2 separate regions of the Homo sapiens genome follow, and region 2 is linked to region 1. Evidence: fine-mapped expression QTL. Tissue or cell type: whole blood. Region 1 holds a variant in brackets; the other region holds the start of a gene. All regions are shown on one strand. Distances are between the middles of the regions.

Region 1 (8,265 bases):
TCTCAAATCCAGGTCACGCTGATGCAAGAAGTGGGCTACCATGGCCTTGGGCAGCTCCACCTCTGTGGCTTTGCAGGGTACACCCCCCACTCCTGGCTGCTTTCCCATGTTAAGTGTCTGCAGCTCTTCCAGGTTCATGGTGCAAGTTATCAGTGGATCTACCATTCTGGGGTCTGAAGGATGGTGGCCCTCTTCTCACAGCTCCACTAGGCAGTGCCCCAGTGGGGACTCTGTGTGGGGGCTCCAACCCCACATTTCCCTTCTGCATTGCCCTAACAGAGGTTCTCCATGAGGGCTCTGCCCCCGCAGCAAACTTCTGCCTGGACATCCAGGCATTTCCATACATCCTCTGAAGTCTAGGCAGAGGTTACTAAACCTCAATTTTTGACTTCCACGCACCCACAGGTTCAATACCATGTGGAAGCTGCCAAGCTTTGGGCCTTGCACCCTCTGAAGCCATGGCCCCAGCTGTACCTTGGCCCCTTTTAGCCACAGCTGGAGTGGCTGGTACTCAGGGCGCCAAGTCCCTAGGCTGCACACAGCAGGGGGTCCTGGGCCCAGCCCACAAAATGATTTTTTCCACCTAGGCCTCCGGGCCTGTGATGGGAAGGGCTGCTGCAAAGGTCTCTGACACACCCTGGAGATATTTCCCCATTGCCTGGGTGATTAACATTCAGCTCCTTGCTACTTATGCAAATTTCTGCAGCAGGCTTGAATTTCTTCCCAGAAAGTTTTTTTCTTTACTATCACATTGTCTGGCTGCAAATTTTCCAAATTTTTATGTTCTGCTTTACCTTGAACACTTTGCCACTTAGAAATTTCTTCCACCAGATACCCTAAATAATCTCTCTCAAATTCAAAGTTCCACAGATCTCTAGGGCAGGGGCAAAATGCCACTGATCTCTTTGCATAACAAGAGTGACCTTTACTCCAGTTCCTAGCAAGTTTCTCATCTTTATCTGAGACCACCTCAGCCTGGACCTTATTGTCCATATCACAATCAGCATTTTGGTCAAAGCCATTCAACAGGTCTCTAGGAAGTTCCAATTCAACTCTAGGGAGTTACAATTCAAGGTGAGATTTGGGTGGGGACACAGAGTCAAACCATATCAGGTAGATTGGTTGGTGTCTTTATTAATCAAGCATAACACAAAAATGAGAATTTATGTAAATTTTAATTAGTCATTTGATGTGTTTTAGAAGCCATCATAAGATTATCAAAAAAAATTTCAATAATACAAAATGACAACAGTATTTTTACTTTAGATATGAATTTGAGTATGTTATCAGTCTCAATGCATACCTCAGGATTTTGAGGTTTGAATTGGCTCTCTCATGAAATAAATTCTATGCATTGTTTTATTTTTTGACTTGGCAATAAATAATAGAGAAGACCCAGAAGAAGTTATTGGGAAGAAAGTTGCCTCCAGAGGTAGAGCTGGAGACCATTATTCTTCATGACTATTGATATGGTTTGGCTCTGTGCGCCAACCCAAATCTCACCTTGAATTGTAATAATCCCCATGTGTCATAGGAGGGACTCAATGGGAGGTAATTAAATCATAGGGTTGAGTATTTCCCATGCTGTTCTTGTGATAGTGAATAAGTTTCATGAGGTCTGATAGTTTTATAAAGGCGAGTTCCACTGCACATGTCCACTTGAGTGCCGCTATGTAAGATGTAACTTTGCTCCTCATTCACTTTCCACCATGATTGTGAGGCCTCCCTAGCCATATGGAACTGTGAGTCCATTAAACCTCTTTCCTCTATAAATTACCTAGTCTCTGGTATGTCTTTATTAGCAACATGATAACAGATTAATACAATTATAAATGCAAAATTGCTTCTAAAATATGAGCAAACAAAATTTAGCAATATATAAAAAGCTGATCATAATACATAATACATAGAAAAAATAATCACCATAACCAAGTGGAGTTTCTTCCAGTGATGCAATCTGGTTCAATGTATGAAAGTCAGTCAGTGAAATCCATCATATTAACAGGCTAAGGAAGAAAAAACATCACACGTTCATATCAGTTGCTATAGTTTGGATGTGGTTTGTTTCTGCTAAAACTCATTGTGAAATTTGATCCCCAGTGTAGTGGTGTTGGAAGGTGGGGCCTAGTGGAAGGTGTTTGGGTCATTGAGGTGGGTCACTGATGAATAGATTAATGCTTTCCCACGGGAGTGAATGAATTCTCACTCTCCAGAGAGTGGGTTGTTGTCAAAGGGAGTTTGGCTTCCTAGACTCTCTCTTGCTTCCTCTCTCACCATGTGATCACTTTGCACATGCCTGCTTGATTTTCCACCTCTCTACCACATTTTGTCCCAGCAAACAGCCCCCACCAGAAGGCAGCCAATGTGGTGCAATGCTCTTGAACTTCCCAGCCTGCAGAATTGTGAGTGAAATAAATCTCTTTTTTTAATAAATTGCCCAGCCTCAGGTATTCTTTTATAGCAACATAAAATGGACCAAGGTATCAATTGATGCAGAAAAATTATTTGACAAATACATGATCTTTAGGGGGAAAAGACCTCTTAGAAAAATAGGAGTAAAGGAGAGCTTCCTTAACTTGATAAAGAATGTCTACAAAAAACCCACAACTTAACATCACTATACTTAGTAGTGAAAGGCTGAGTGCTTTTCACCTAAGTTCTTCCCTAAGAACTGGGCAAGGATGCCTACTATCACCACTTTTATTCCACACAATGCTGGAGCTTCCTATTCAGTGCATTAAGACAAAAAAGTAAAATGAAACAAAAATGTACAGATCAGAGAGGAATAAATAAAACTGTCCATGTTTGCAGATGACATACACAGAAAATCTCAAGGGCACTACCAAAAAGCTCCTAAAGCTAATAAGTGAATTCAATAAAGTTGTGGTATACAAGATAAATATACAAAATAAATTATATTTCTATATATTAGCAACAAACATATACACCAACATTTATAATCATTCAAAAAAAGAGAAAAACTTAGTTTTCAATCTAACAAAACATGTATGGGACTCGTGTACTGAAAACTACATAATACTGATGAAGAAAGTAAGGAAGATCTAAATAAATGAAGAGATATTCTGTGCTTATGTAATAGAAGACTCACTCTAGTACAGATGTCCGTTCTCCCAAATTGATAT[C/T]CCAGTTTAGTGCCATTCCTATCAAAATCTCAAGTATTTTATGGATAGAGGTAAGATTATTTTTGGGTTTATAGGAAACAACAAAACACTAGAATAGCTAAAACAATTTTGAAAAGGAACAATAAAATGGGAGAAATCAGTCTACCTGATTTTGAGACTTACTATAAAGCTACAGGAATTAAGACTGTGTGGTATTAGTGGAGGGTTAGACATATGGATCTGTAGAACAAGTTAGAGAACCCAGAAATAGACCCATACAAATGTGCCCAAATTGATTTTTGACAAAGATAAAAAAAATTAACTCAATGGAGAAAAGATGGCTTTGCAAACAAATGGTGCTAAAGCAATTGTACATCTATGGGTACACAATAAACAATGCCCTAAACCTCACACCTCATGCAAAAGTGAACTCAAAATGGGTCATGTTAGTTAAACGCTAACATGAAACTATTAAACTTTTCCAAAAATAAAGGAGAAAATGTTCGAGATCTAGGGCTAGGCAAAGATCTCTTAGACTTGTCACCGAAAACAAAATCTACAGAAGCAAAAATTGGTAAATTTGAACTTCATCAAAATTAAATGCTTTTGCTTCATAAAGTCCTGGTAAGATGAAGAAAAGACAAGCCACATACTGGGAAAAATATTTACAAACCACGCATCTGACAAAGACTAGTATCTAGGGTGTATAAAGAATCCTCAAAACTCAACATTAAAAAAGCAAACAATCTACAGGCTGTGTTAGTCCATTCTGGGACTGCTATAAAGAAATACCTGAGACTGGGTAATTTATAAAGAAAAGAGGTTTAATTGGCTCACAGTTCTGCAGGCTGTACACGAAGCATAGTGGCTTCTGCTTCTAGGGAGGCTTCAGGAAGCTTCCAATTATGGCAGAAGGCAAAGGGGGAGTGAGGTACTTCACATGGCTGGAGCAGGACAAAGGGAGGAGGACAGGTTCCACACACTTTTAAACAACCAGATCTTATGAGCACTCACTATCATGATGACAGCACCAAGGCGTATAGCATTAAATCATGAGAAACTGCCCCCATGGTTCAATCACCTCACACAGGGCCGCACCTCCAACACTGGGGATTACAATCTGACATGAAATTTGGTGGGACACAGATCCAAACCGTATTAAGGCAATAGACATTTCACTAAAGAAAATATGCTTATGGCAAGTAAGTACCTGAAAAGATATTCCAGATCATTAGTCATGAGGGAGATGCAAATTAAAACCACAATGAGATACCGTTACATGTCTTTCAAAATGGCTAAAACAAAAATTAGTCACAACACCAAATGCTGGAAAGGATGTGGAGAAATTGCTTGTGTGAATGCAAAATGTGACAGCCATTCTGGGAAAAAACAATCTGGCAGTTTCCTTTAAATTTATTTTATTTTATTTTGTTTTTATTTATTTATTTATTTGTTTTTGAGACAGAGTCTCACACTGTTGCCCAGGCTGGAGTGCGGTGGTGCAATCTCACCTCACTGCAACCTCTGCCTCCCAGGTTCAAGCGACTCTCCTGCCTCAGCCTCCCAAGTAGCCAGGACCACAGGCAACCACCACCACACCCAGCTAATTTTTGTATTTTTAGTATAGACAGGGTTTTACCATGTTGACCAGGATGGTCTCAAACGCCTGACCTCAGGCAATCCTCCCATCTCGGCCTTGCAAAGTGCTGGGATCACAGGCATGAGCCACCGTGACTGGCCTGCCTTTAAAATTCAAACATGCAACAATCATACAACCCAACAGTTACACTCCTGGCCATTTATCCCAGAGAAATGAAGATTTAGTTCACACAATAACCTGTATATAAATGTTTATAGAAGCTTTATTTGTAATTGTCAAGAAAAATTGGAAACAACACAAATAAGGTGGGATTTGAGAGACTGAAGACAATGGAAAGACCAGGGAGTCTATATGAGTGGAGAGGGAATGGTGAAGAGCTTGTCCACGAATGGGGAGAGGAGTTGGACGAGTTGCATGGTCCCTCCTTCTCCACTTTCCCCTCCCTGTATGCATTTATCCCTGATGTGGAAGGGAGTCAGGTGTGCTAAGCCAAGGAAGAGTCTGAAGAAGAAATGGAAGAAAAAAGAGAAGACAGGCAGGCAACTTCCAGTTCCATCAAGGGGGCAACCATGGAGCAGGACAGCTGCTCCTAAACTCAGAGGGGCAGCAGGAAAACCCCTGCATTTTGCTTTTAATAATATTTGGATTATTTAATTTTTTAAAAGTCAAAGAAGTTTTAAAATTCTAATGAAATACTGAAAAGCTAATTTTAAAAAGTATTCCTTTGCCACAGTAAATTTACTATTATGAGATAAAAACTAATAAATTCACTTAATTAGGTATTTTTTAGGCATCTGGATGAAAAGTACATATTGCATAATTATAGACATGGCTGTAAAGAGAGCAATATTTAATATTAGCTCAACTTTATTTTATATTGACCCAGCACATTTTTTCTGAAAAGCTAAAATAACTGTCACGTTATCTCTTCTAGGTTGATGATATGTAAAGATAGAAAATTAATGTCAAGTTTTACAGATCAGTAAACCAAAAAGTATCTGAGACTGGTCTCAGTCAATTTAGAAGTTTATTTTGCCAAGGTTAAGGACATGCCCAGGAGAAAAGAACATTGAATCACAGAAACAGCCTGTGGTCTGCACCTTTCTCCAAAGACGGTTTTGAGGACTTCAGTATTTAAAGGGGGAAAGCAGGCTGAAGGGGAAAGATGGAAGGTATGGTCATCTACATGTTGCAAGATAAAAGGAGCAGGTAGGAGAACAGTCAACTATGTATTCATCTCACACTCAGTAAATCAGAACTTTGCATAAGATTATGAGCATAGAGTAGCTACCTGTGGAAATATTTAACCTTTTATCTGTAGCTATCTGCTTAAGAACAAAAGGAAAGGCAGCTTCTTGCATGGCTCAACTTTCAGTTTAATCTTTTTCCTCTTGCACAGTCAATTGGGTTTTTATTTTGCTTTCATAGATACCTAGACAGGTCAAGGTGCTTGCTTAAACTTAGTGACTCCTGAGCAGAGGTGTAATTCAAATGGCCATGGCCGTGATGCTTAAATTGTGCTTTGCATTTCACTGCTGTGCTTGTATGAGAGTACAAAAGATTCTGAGAGCCAAATTAAATTTCTAAGTGTTTTAGCTCTTAGTTTCCACAAACAAATCAAAATACCAGTATAAATCCAACTATAGGGCAAGACAGCAATATCATTACATAATGGACCAGATTAAGAATATGCAGTTGCACACATGTTTAGAAAAACCTGAGAAGTTATCAGCAAACACATGTAACATGGCTTGTGCTCAGCTATCCTCCACATCTTCTGCCTGTCTTTTGTGCTACCAGGTTCATTTGCTGCTTGGATAGTTCACTTGAGCCTAAGTGGCTCATAACCATGGGACATCTGTAAAGGATGTTAAAGATGCTCACTGGTCTATTTCTGAATTTATGTTTTCTAGCCAGGCAGAGCACAGCTATAGAAAATATTTTCCTTTGTCAAACATATATTTGATACAGTACTGTCCTTTTGATAGAGGAAGGAGGCAGCCAAATGTCTAGGCAGATAAGGGTCCCCAGTGAAACCCCACCTTCAAGCCGAAGACAGTCCTGGGTAAATCCTTGGACCACACTGAGGACCTGTCTTCTCATTTGGTGCACTTTCCTCTGATCAATCCCCACCCTTCACCTATTTTACATATACCTACACTTTCCTAATTGGTTTTCTACACTATCATGCCCACCTTTGAGTGGTGTCTTCCCTTTAACCGTTTTTGTGTACTCACAAACCAATCAGCATGCACTCCCTATTCTGAGCCCATAAGGGCCCCAGGCTCAGCCATATTAGGGAACTTTTCCTGCCTTTGTGTAGTGGGACCACTCCCACATCCCCTTCCTGCTGAAAGCTGTTTCTCACCTTGTATACTCTTCGATTGTCAGCATCCTCATTCTTCTTGGACACTAGAAGAGAACTCAGGAAGCAGTGGGCAAGCCAGACTCAACTGGGGTGGGCCAAATGAGTGGGCAGTCTCCTGCAGCAGGTAGCATGGCCAAGCGAGGCCCAGGCATGGTGTCACCGGCCGGGGGTCCCTGGCTTGCAAAGTGACAGAGAGAAAAATCCTTTTATCATTTTATTAAGCTTTTAATTTTTTCACATTTCATGATGATCATTTATTATAAGAAGTACTTGGCATTTTTATTTTAAAAAATAGCACAACTTTCTGCCTTAAGAGAAGAATTAAAATGATAAACTTTGGACATTTTCTGTGATTTACATTTGACCTTGGTATGTCCCACAATTCCTTGATAAATAAACTTTTTTTTTCAAGACAGGATCTCACTCTCTTGCCTAGGCTGAAGTGCAGTGATGCAATCATAGATCACTGTAGCCTCCAACTTCTGGGCTAGAGTGATCCTCTTGACTCAGCTTCCTGGGTAGCTGAGACCACAGGTTTGTGCCACTATGCCCACTAATATTTTAATTTTTTGTAGAGACAGAGTCTTGCTCTATTGCCTAGGCTAGAATGCAGTGGTGCAATAATAGCTCACTGCAGACTCCAACACCTGGGCTAGAACAATCCTCTCTCCTCAACCTCCTCAGTAGCTAGGACTATAGGTGTGTGTCACCATGCCTAGTTAATTTTTAAATTTTTTTGAGATAGGGTCTCTCTCTGTTGCCTAGGCTAGAGTGCAGTGATGCAATCATAGCTCACTGCAGCCTCCAACACCTAGGCTAGGGCGATCCTCCCGCCTCAGCCTCCTGAGTAGCTTGGACCAAACTTAGTTAATTTTTTAATTTTTTGTAGAGACAGGGTCTTGCTATGTTGCTCAGGCTGATCTTGAACTCCTGGCTTCAAGCAATCCGCCCCCCTCAGCCTCCCAAGGTGCCAGGATTACAGGAGTAAGCCACCACATGTGGCCATAAATTAAACATTTTAAGATAAAATTCACATTTACATTGCAAAAGGAATGTTTAGAGTTATCTCTGAAGCACCAACTCTGCTGAGGAGCCCATGTCAGCTACTCAGGAGTCTGGGAAGTGGTTTTGTTTATTAATTTATTTTTGAAAATTCACTTTATAATGCTCTGAGT
Region 2 (8,000 bases), 83 kb after region 1:
AAAAAATAAATGTTCCTTTTTCCTTCTTTTCCCCTTCCTAGATCCCCACCATAAGCATACATTTCTTGTATTAGTCTGTTCTCATGCTGCTAATAAAGACATACCTGAGACTGGGTAATTTATAAAGGAAAGAGGTCCAACTGACTCACAGTTCCACATGGCTGGGGAGGCCTCACAATAATGGCAGAAGGTGGATGAGGAGCAGTCACGTCTTACATGGCAGCAGGCAAGAGAGAACTTGTGTAGGGGAACTCTCCTTTATAAAACCATCAGATGTTGTGAGACTTATTCACTATCACAGAACAGCATGGGAAAGACCTGCCCCCATGATTAATTACATTTCATCAGTTCCCTCCCATGACCACATGGGAATTATAGGAGCTACATTCAAGATGAGACTTGGGTGGGGACAGAACCAAACCATATCACTTGTTTTACATTTAAAGTCTTTTAAAATAATTATTACATATACAACATTGAAAATATCAGAAACCAAGGAGATATTTTTCTGCCATCCCTTCTCAAGTCTAAGTGAATGTTTTCATTTGCCTATGTCAGCTTCTGAGCCTTGTCCATGAGAATCTATGATTTTTATGTTTATATTGCCATAATATAATTATATATTTAAAATAGTCATCCACATGATGTCATATATTTTCAGAAGATTTGTCCTATAACCCAATTAAGCAGCCTGGTACAGCTCTGTAGATAATGGAGGTAATTTTACCACTAACTTAGCCTAAGATATTTTCATTAAAGGTTTCCCTTTTAAGGAAAAAATGTACTTAGCCTGGTTACTCTGAAAGCTGATATAAAAATGTATAAGCCTGTAGAGGTCACACGACATGATGTTTGCCTTTCCTTATCTGTTGTATGCCCCTCAGTGCCCACATGCTTCATCCCCTCACCCCCATGCTTGGCACAGAGTAGGAGCGCAAAAACTATTTGACGCATGAACAAATGATACTTTTCTTGGTTGTATGGTGAAATTACAAAATAGAATTTCTCGGGAACTGGGACAGAAGACTCCAAAGTTAGGCCTGAGAACAGGGTAGGGTGGACACCAGCAAAGCAATCAGGAAAGGCAACCGGAAACCCCATCGTAAAGGCCAGCTACAGTGGCTGAGAGGAAACGTGTGGTTTCCTGAATTGCACTTGTTCAAAACCTTCAACCTTAAAGCATGATGTATGTAAACCTTATCAAGGACCCACAGCTGGCCCAACAGTCACACTTTGGGGTTGTTTTCTTTAAAAGGTATTTGTAATCTTAGGGTTCCTAGGATAAATACGGAGTTGTAAGCCACTGTAGCATGAAAATAAAGCTGCAAAGAATTGAAGTAGGTATGCTTCAGAAGAACAACCCATGCAATATTTTTAGAGGAAGGATTCTTAAGCTAGTGTCCATTGGGTCTCCTCTGGGTACCATAGAAGGGCTTCAGGAAATGGTGAACAGCCTGAGATTGATGTAAAGTGTGTGTGTGTGTGTCTGCGTGTGTGTCTGTGTGTGTGTGCCTGTGTGTGTGTGTGTGTCTGTCTGTCTATGGAGGAGACCACAGCTTTCATCAAATTCTCATGTCTTTTGGTTATGGGGCCTGCTCTTCCTTTCACTTCATTAAGTCGAGTGGGGCTCTTCTAAACCCATTCTTATGTGCTAGGGGCTAGAGATGGGAATGAGAGAGAGTAGGTAGAAGACAAGGGAACTAACTCTATACAAGGCCTTCTATTGAGTCAATATAAGTGAAAGGCTTAGAGAGTGTCCAACCTGCATCAGGACCAATAAATATTAGCTCTTATTATTATTATTACACTATGCCAAAGCACTTCAAGTTTTCTCAACCTCACAACAACCCCACAAGTTCAGCATAAGTCTCATATTCCATTAGGTTGAACAACTAACCCAGGGTCACACAGCCAGTGGTGGAGTTCAGAACTATCTAATTCCAAGCTTAGATTCTTCTTTTCCACCCTGTGGCCTGAATTACTGGCCAGACTTTCAGTCTGGAGGCAGCCTCTCTGTCTACCCTTCAGGCTTTCACATCTAAATCCCAAGGGTCTTGCTCTTTCCCTGAGTCTGTCCATCAGAACTGGCATGAGGCCTAAAAATGAGCCGTTTCAAGCCCAGGCATCATCTACTCACTTACATAACAAAACCTTAGTCATCCCACTGAGATTCCACACTCAAAGCCAATTTCTCTCACAGGGCATCGAATGCTAGTTAAAGATATAAAATCACGCTTATCACAATTAACTCCCTTGCCTTTATGATGCAGCCAAGTCAAAGCCCAAACAGGAATAAATTTTTTCTAGTAGCCACAAATCAGAGGAGTGAGAAAGCTCTATGCCAAATCTACCATTTTCTGATTTCAAAATCCATGCTAAAAACTGCAGTTAAACATCAGCTACCAAAACACCCTTCTATCAAATAAGAATCATGGTGATTGCATGAATTGAGCACTTTCTATGTACTTGCTCTTTACGTGTTATTTCTATGCCTCAGAAGAGCCAAGCAGGCCAGATAGATGTTACTGCTTGAGAGGCTAAGCAAGTCCCATAAGGTCACACACACAGTGAGGAGCAGAACCTGGACTCAAACCCAGGCCTATCTGATGACAGCAACAGTGCTGCTAACCATGCCCTTCCCCCCAGCTCTCTACAGTCAATGTGATTCATGGCACCCAGGACCAACACCGGCTCTTGGCTTTCCCACAAACCACTTCCCTGAAATCTGGACAACTTCTTGGGAGGAGGAGTCATGGGAACAGGACAGATGAACTCCAAAATAGAAGATCGGGTGAGAGGTCCGGCTCTGCTACTTCTGTAGCTCTGTCACCACGGGCAGATCACTTAACTTTCCAAGGCCTCAGTTTCCTCGCCTATGCAATGGAGATGACCGTGAATGCCCCAAATTGCGCTGATCTAGTAGAGAAGAGGAGCTAAGGCTCAGGGGCTTTCCAGACGTGAGTTATCTTTACCTTTCCTTGACTAGCTAATTCAAGACAACTAGGTAGAAGCCCTTTCTCAGCCTCCCCTCTTCGCTCATCTTTCGAGTTCTTGGCCACCCCAGTTCAAACACCAGCACCATTGCCCTCCTCTCAGGTGGCTGCTGCTTAATTTCCCCTCCACTTTAGTAGTTCTTCTCTTGCCTCGCTAGAAGGACTGGTGTTGGGTGCTTGGAATTCTGGCTATTTTCCTCCTGCCGTTCCGACTCGGCACCAGAGTCTGTCTCTACTGAGAACGCAGCGCGTCAGGGCCGAGCTCTTCACTGGCCTGCTCCGCGCTCTTCAATGCCAGCGCCAGGCGCTCACCCTGCAGAGCGTCCCGCCTCTCAAAGAGGGGTGTGACCCGCGAGTTTAGATAGGAGGTTCCTGCCGTGGGGAACACCCCGCCGCCCTCGGAGCTTTTTCTGTGGCGCAGCTTCTCCGCCCGAGCCGCGCGCGGAGCTGCCGGGGGCTCCTTAGCACCCGGGCGCCGGGGCCCTCGCCCTTCCGCAGCCTTCACTCCAGCCCTCTGCTCCCGCACGCCATGAAGTCGCCGTTCTACCGCTGCCAGAACACCACCTCTGTGGAAAAAGGCAACTCGGCGGTGATGGGCGGGGTGCTCTTCAGCACCGGCCTCCTGGGCAACCTGCTGGCCCTGGGGCTGCTGGCGCGCTCGGGGCTGGGGTGGTGCTCGCGGCGTCCACTGCGCCCGCTGCCCTCGGTCTTCTACATGCTGGTGTGTGGCCTGACGGTCACCGACTTGCTGGGCAAGTGCCTCCTAAGCCCGGTGGTGCTGGCTGCCTACGCTCAGAACCGGAGTCTGCGGGTGCTTGCGCCCGCATTGGACAACTCGTTGTGCCAAGCCTTCGCCTTCTTCATGTCCTTCTTTGGGCTCTCCTCGACACTGCAACTCCTGGCCATGGCACTGGAGTGCTGGCTCTCCCTAGGGCACCCTTTCTTCTACCGACGGCACATCACCCTGCGCCTGGGCGCACTGGTGGCCCCGGTGGTGAGCGCCTTCTCCCTGGCTTTCTGCGCGCTACCTTTCATGGGCTTCGGGAAGTTCGTGCAGTACTGCCCCGGCACCTGGTGCTTTATCCAGATGGTCCACGAGGAGGGCTCGCTGTCGGTGCTGGGGTACTCTGTGCTCTACTCCAGCCTCATGGCGCTGCTGGTCCTCGCCACCGTGCTGTGCAACCTCGGCGCCATGCGCAACCTCTATGCGATGCACCGGCGGCTGCAGCGGCACCCGCGCTCCTGCACCAGGGACTGTGCCGAGCCGCGCGCGGACGGGAGGGAAGCGTCCCCTCAGCCCCTGGAGGAGCTGGATCACCTCCTGCTGCTGGCGCTGATGACCGTGCTCTTCACTATGTGTTCTCTGCCCGTAATTGTGAGTCCCCGGGCCCCGAGGCAGCAGGGCACTGAGACTGTCCGGCCGCGGATGCGGGGCGGGAAGGGTGGAGCGGATCGGGATGGACGCGGCGCCAGGCGAGCTGCGCCCTGGGCCAGGAAGGTTTGCTGCTGAGTTCCCCAAATTGGATTCCTTCCACAGCCCCGAGATATAACTCAGTTTGCGGAGCGAAATGAGGGAAAGTTAGAGAAAGGAAGGGAAAGGCTGAGCCCGGCGGTGTCTCCCTAGCCCAGCAAAACCCTCTCCATGTGGCAGAACTCCCTCCTCTCTGCTTCCTTCTGGGGAGATCTCGAGGTCATTTTTGCGCCTTAGGAGGAGCAGAACTTAGTTTCTCCTTGGCAACAGGAGTCTTCTACTTCCCGACGGCTGGGTGATGTTTTATTTTGTTAGACCTGCTCATGACTTCAGTGGTATCAGAAATGGGCGAATGGCGTCTGGGACGATCTTCTCCCCGGTGTTGGCATAGAAAGGGAAAAAGAGGTTTAAGCCAGCCAGAGTGATTTGCAGATGCATAGTTTTAATTTTGAAAAACGCGTGCGTAAACTTTGAGACGCCACGGCTGCTGTTTCTGGTGCTGCATCCGCCAGGGATTGTGGCGATGGAGGCCGAGGCTCTTTGTATGTTTTAGCTGCTGGTGTCGTTTTGACAACCTGACTTGACGGGTTTTGAGTGTATCTTGGCAAGTGAGGTGACATGAAAGCCATTATCTCCGGTTTCAATTTGGTAATGAGGATAGCGATGGAAATGAAATTATCTCCTCATTTTGAAGGCATTTGTTCCTGGAGTCCCCGCCAAGACACCTGGGAGTAGGTGAGGCTTGAGGAAACATTTTCAGTGCTGCTCCTCTCCTTTCTCCCAAGGTACCTGTTCAACAAAAACAATACTTACAGAAATTCCATTGCCAATCCCACGTTCTCGAAATCCTGAGACTTCTGTGAATAGGAAAGTTGTTAAATTTCTTCTCAGAATGTAGCCATTTTGGATATTACTTTCAATGGTGAATGAAAGGGAAATACAAAGCGATTTTCCTTTAAATGAAGGCCTTACTGCTTGCGGAAAAAGAAGTCTGGGGCATCAGCATGCAGGGGTGGGAACAGTATGCCCCCAAAATAAATAAACAAATACATAAATCTATATCTATCTAAATGTAGATATAGGCGCAGATGACATATAGCAGTGGTCTTCAGAATCACCAGCTCAGAATCACCAGCAAGGCTTCTAGAAAAAAAGATGGCTGGACCCCATTCCCCAGAGTTTCTAATTCAGACATTTTTAAAGAATTTTCATTCTTAACAAGTTCCCAGGTGATATGCAAGCTCAGATTCAGGGTTCACATTTGTAGAATCACACTCTAAAACAGGAGTTAGCAAACCACAGCTCACAGGCCAAATCTTTCCTGGCCACTGTTTTACATCTCCCTGGAGTTAAGAATAATTCTTACAAATGAATCTCTGCAATCAATTTGATGAGACCCAAGAGTTTTGAGCTTCAATTGAGCCAAATACTATTTCAAGAAAAATACTGTTCCAAGAAAACGTTTTATTCTTCTCCTTAGTAGATACATATTACAAAAAAATTGTACTCAGCCGGGAGCGGTGACTCACGCCTGTAATCACAGCACTTTGGGAGGCCGAGGCGGGCAGATCATGAGGTCAAGAGATCGAGACCATCCTGGCCAACATGGTGAAACCCCGTCTCTAAAAATACAAAAATTACCTGGGCGTGGTGGCATGCACTTGTAGTCCCAGCTTCTCAGGAGGCTGAGGCAGGAGAATCGCTTGAACCTGGGAGGCAGAGGTTGCAGTGAGCCAAGACTGTGTCACTGCACTCCAGCCTGGGCGACAGAGCAAGACTCCATCTAAAAAAAAAATTGTACTCAATTATTAATACATTTTGAATTCCATCAAAAAATTGTGGAAATGTGTTTTCTCCCATGTTATATTAGTACCTATCAAATATTTATGATTTTGTCTCTTGGCCATAAAACCTAAAATAGTTACTATCTGGTCCTTTATACAATCTTTAGGAGCTCCTATTGTAAAGTTGGGGCCTCACTTATCTATGCTGTGACAAAGTAGACAGTAGCCAAATGCATGGAAATTTTGACCTGAGTTTGAATGTTTTAGTCAGACCAATGCAGAAAGCAGCATCATACAGTGGAAAGAACATTGCATTTGGACATGTCTCTACGGAGACTTGGATAACTCCTAGGGTATTGTGAGGATTGAAGAAAATCAATGGAGTTGAAAAAGATTTTCCAAAAAAACTAGCAAGTTCCAAATATATTTAATGTTGACAGCATTCTTCACAAGAACCACTATTTTCTAGAGAGGATAAGGGCTTTAGCATCAGACATGGTTTTGAATCAGGCTTCATCACTTACTAGCTATGGTAGCAGCTAATTTACCCTTTCTGACCTCAGTTTCCTCATCTGTAAAATGATTATAACCATACTTGTTTTGTAAGATAGTAATGAAGATTTGAAATTACATACATAATATATACATTCATCACCTAGCCCAGTGTCTTGCCTCAATATATTAGCATCATTATTATTACTATTTATAACTTCCATGTATTATTGTTGCCTGCTGGACATAAAAAAAAATCAAGAACGATTATCGTCCCAGGAGATAGTGCTATATACTAAGGCAGTGGCTCTGAAACTTTTTTTTGGTCTAAGGACCCCTTTATACTCTTAAAATTATTAATGACCCAGATGGCTTTTATGTGGATTAAATCATCAGTATTTCTCATATTAGAAAATAAAACTAAGAAATTCTAAACATATGATTGCAAAACAAGATAAAATGTACCTCTTGTGTTTTCCATATGTACAAGGAAAATGTGGGGATTTCACAATGATTTGATGACAATAAGGTTACAGAGATTATAGCAAGTAAAGTGGAAAAATCCTGTTAAGAGCACAAAAGTACTGAAAACAGTCTCTGAAAATTCACGTGTGTACCCTCAACCTGCCACCTTAAAAGGTCTAGAAAACACAAGGATAAACAACCACATATTCTATTCTTTGTGAAAGTGATGTCATCATTTGTTATCTAGCCTCCATAAAATTCACTGTACACTTGTGAGAGAATGAAGGGGAAAAAGGCAAATCACATGTTTGTAATGACAGTAGTTTTGACCTACTGGACACATTGAATAGGTATTGGAGATTTTACACTCTTCTAAGTAATGGACCTAGCAATTGTATCTTTATCTGAAGGGGGAGACATGGGTGACAATAAGCTATATGGTTAAGTTGACTTAAAAAGAAAACATTTTACATGAGTTTTTTTTCTATTTGCCCCTTTCTCCTCAAAGTGGAGTGTGGCAAAATATAGTTCCAACTATTTGAGAATGCTTGATTAGTTGGGATCTAGACAACTGAATGATACTAGCATAATTAAAACAAATTATTTTATTTTCTAGGCAGCATTTATCCATGTCAAATCCATTAGGTTGACATTCAAGTCACTGGATTTGTATTAGAAATGTATTGTTCATTGGGGCTGGTGGCTCACACTTGTAATCGTAGCATTTTGGGAGGCCAAATCAGGAGGACTGTTTGAGCCCAGGTGTTTGAGACCAGCCTGGGCAACACAGTGAGA

Evidence for each region. PIP is the estimated chance that this variant, and not a neighbour inherited with it, causes the effect.
Region 2: it holds the start of PTGDR, and the variant in region 1 is fine-mapped to the expression of PTGDR in whole blood (TOPMed, PIP above 0.99).

The regions. Positions count from the first base shown.
Region 1 is chr14:52,180,968-52,189,232 of GRCh38, forward strand. No RefSeq gene overlaps it. Among named protein-coding and RNA genes, the nearest start is that of LINC02319, 60 kb to the left of the region's middle. The variant C/T (reference allele first, on the strand shown) is at 3,144.
Region 2 is chr14:52,264,293-52,272,292 of GRCh38, forward strand. PTGDR (prostaglandin D2 receptor) reads left to right here and starts at 3,406. Exons shown (of 2, transcript NM_000953.3): 1 at 3,406-4,368. The coding sequence starts at 3,523.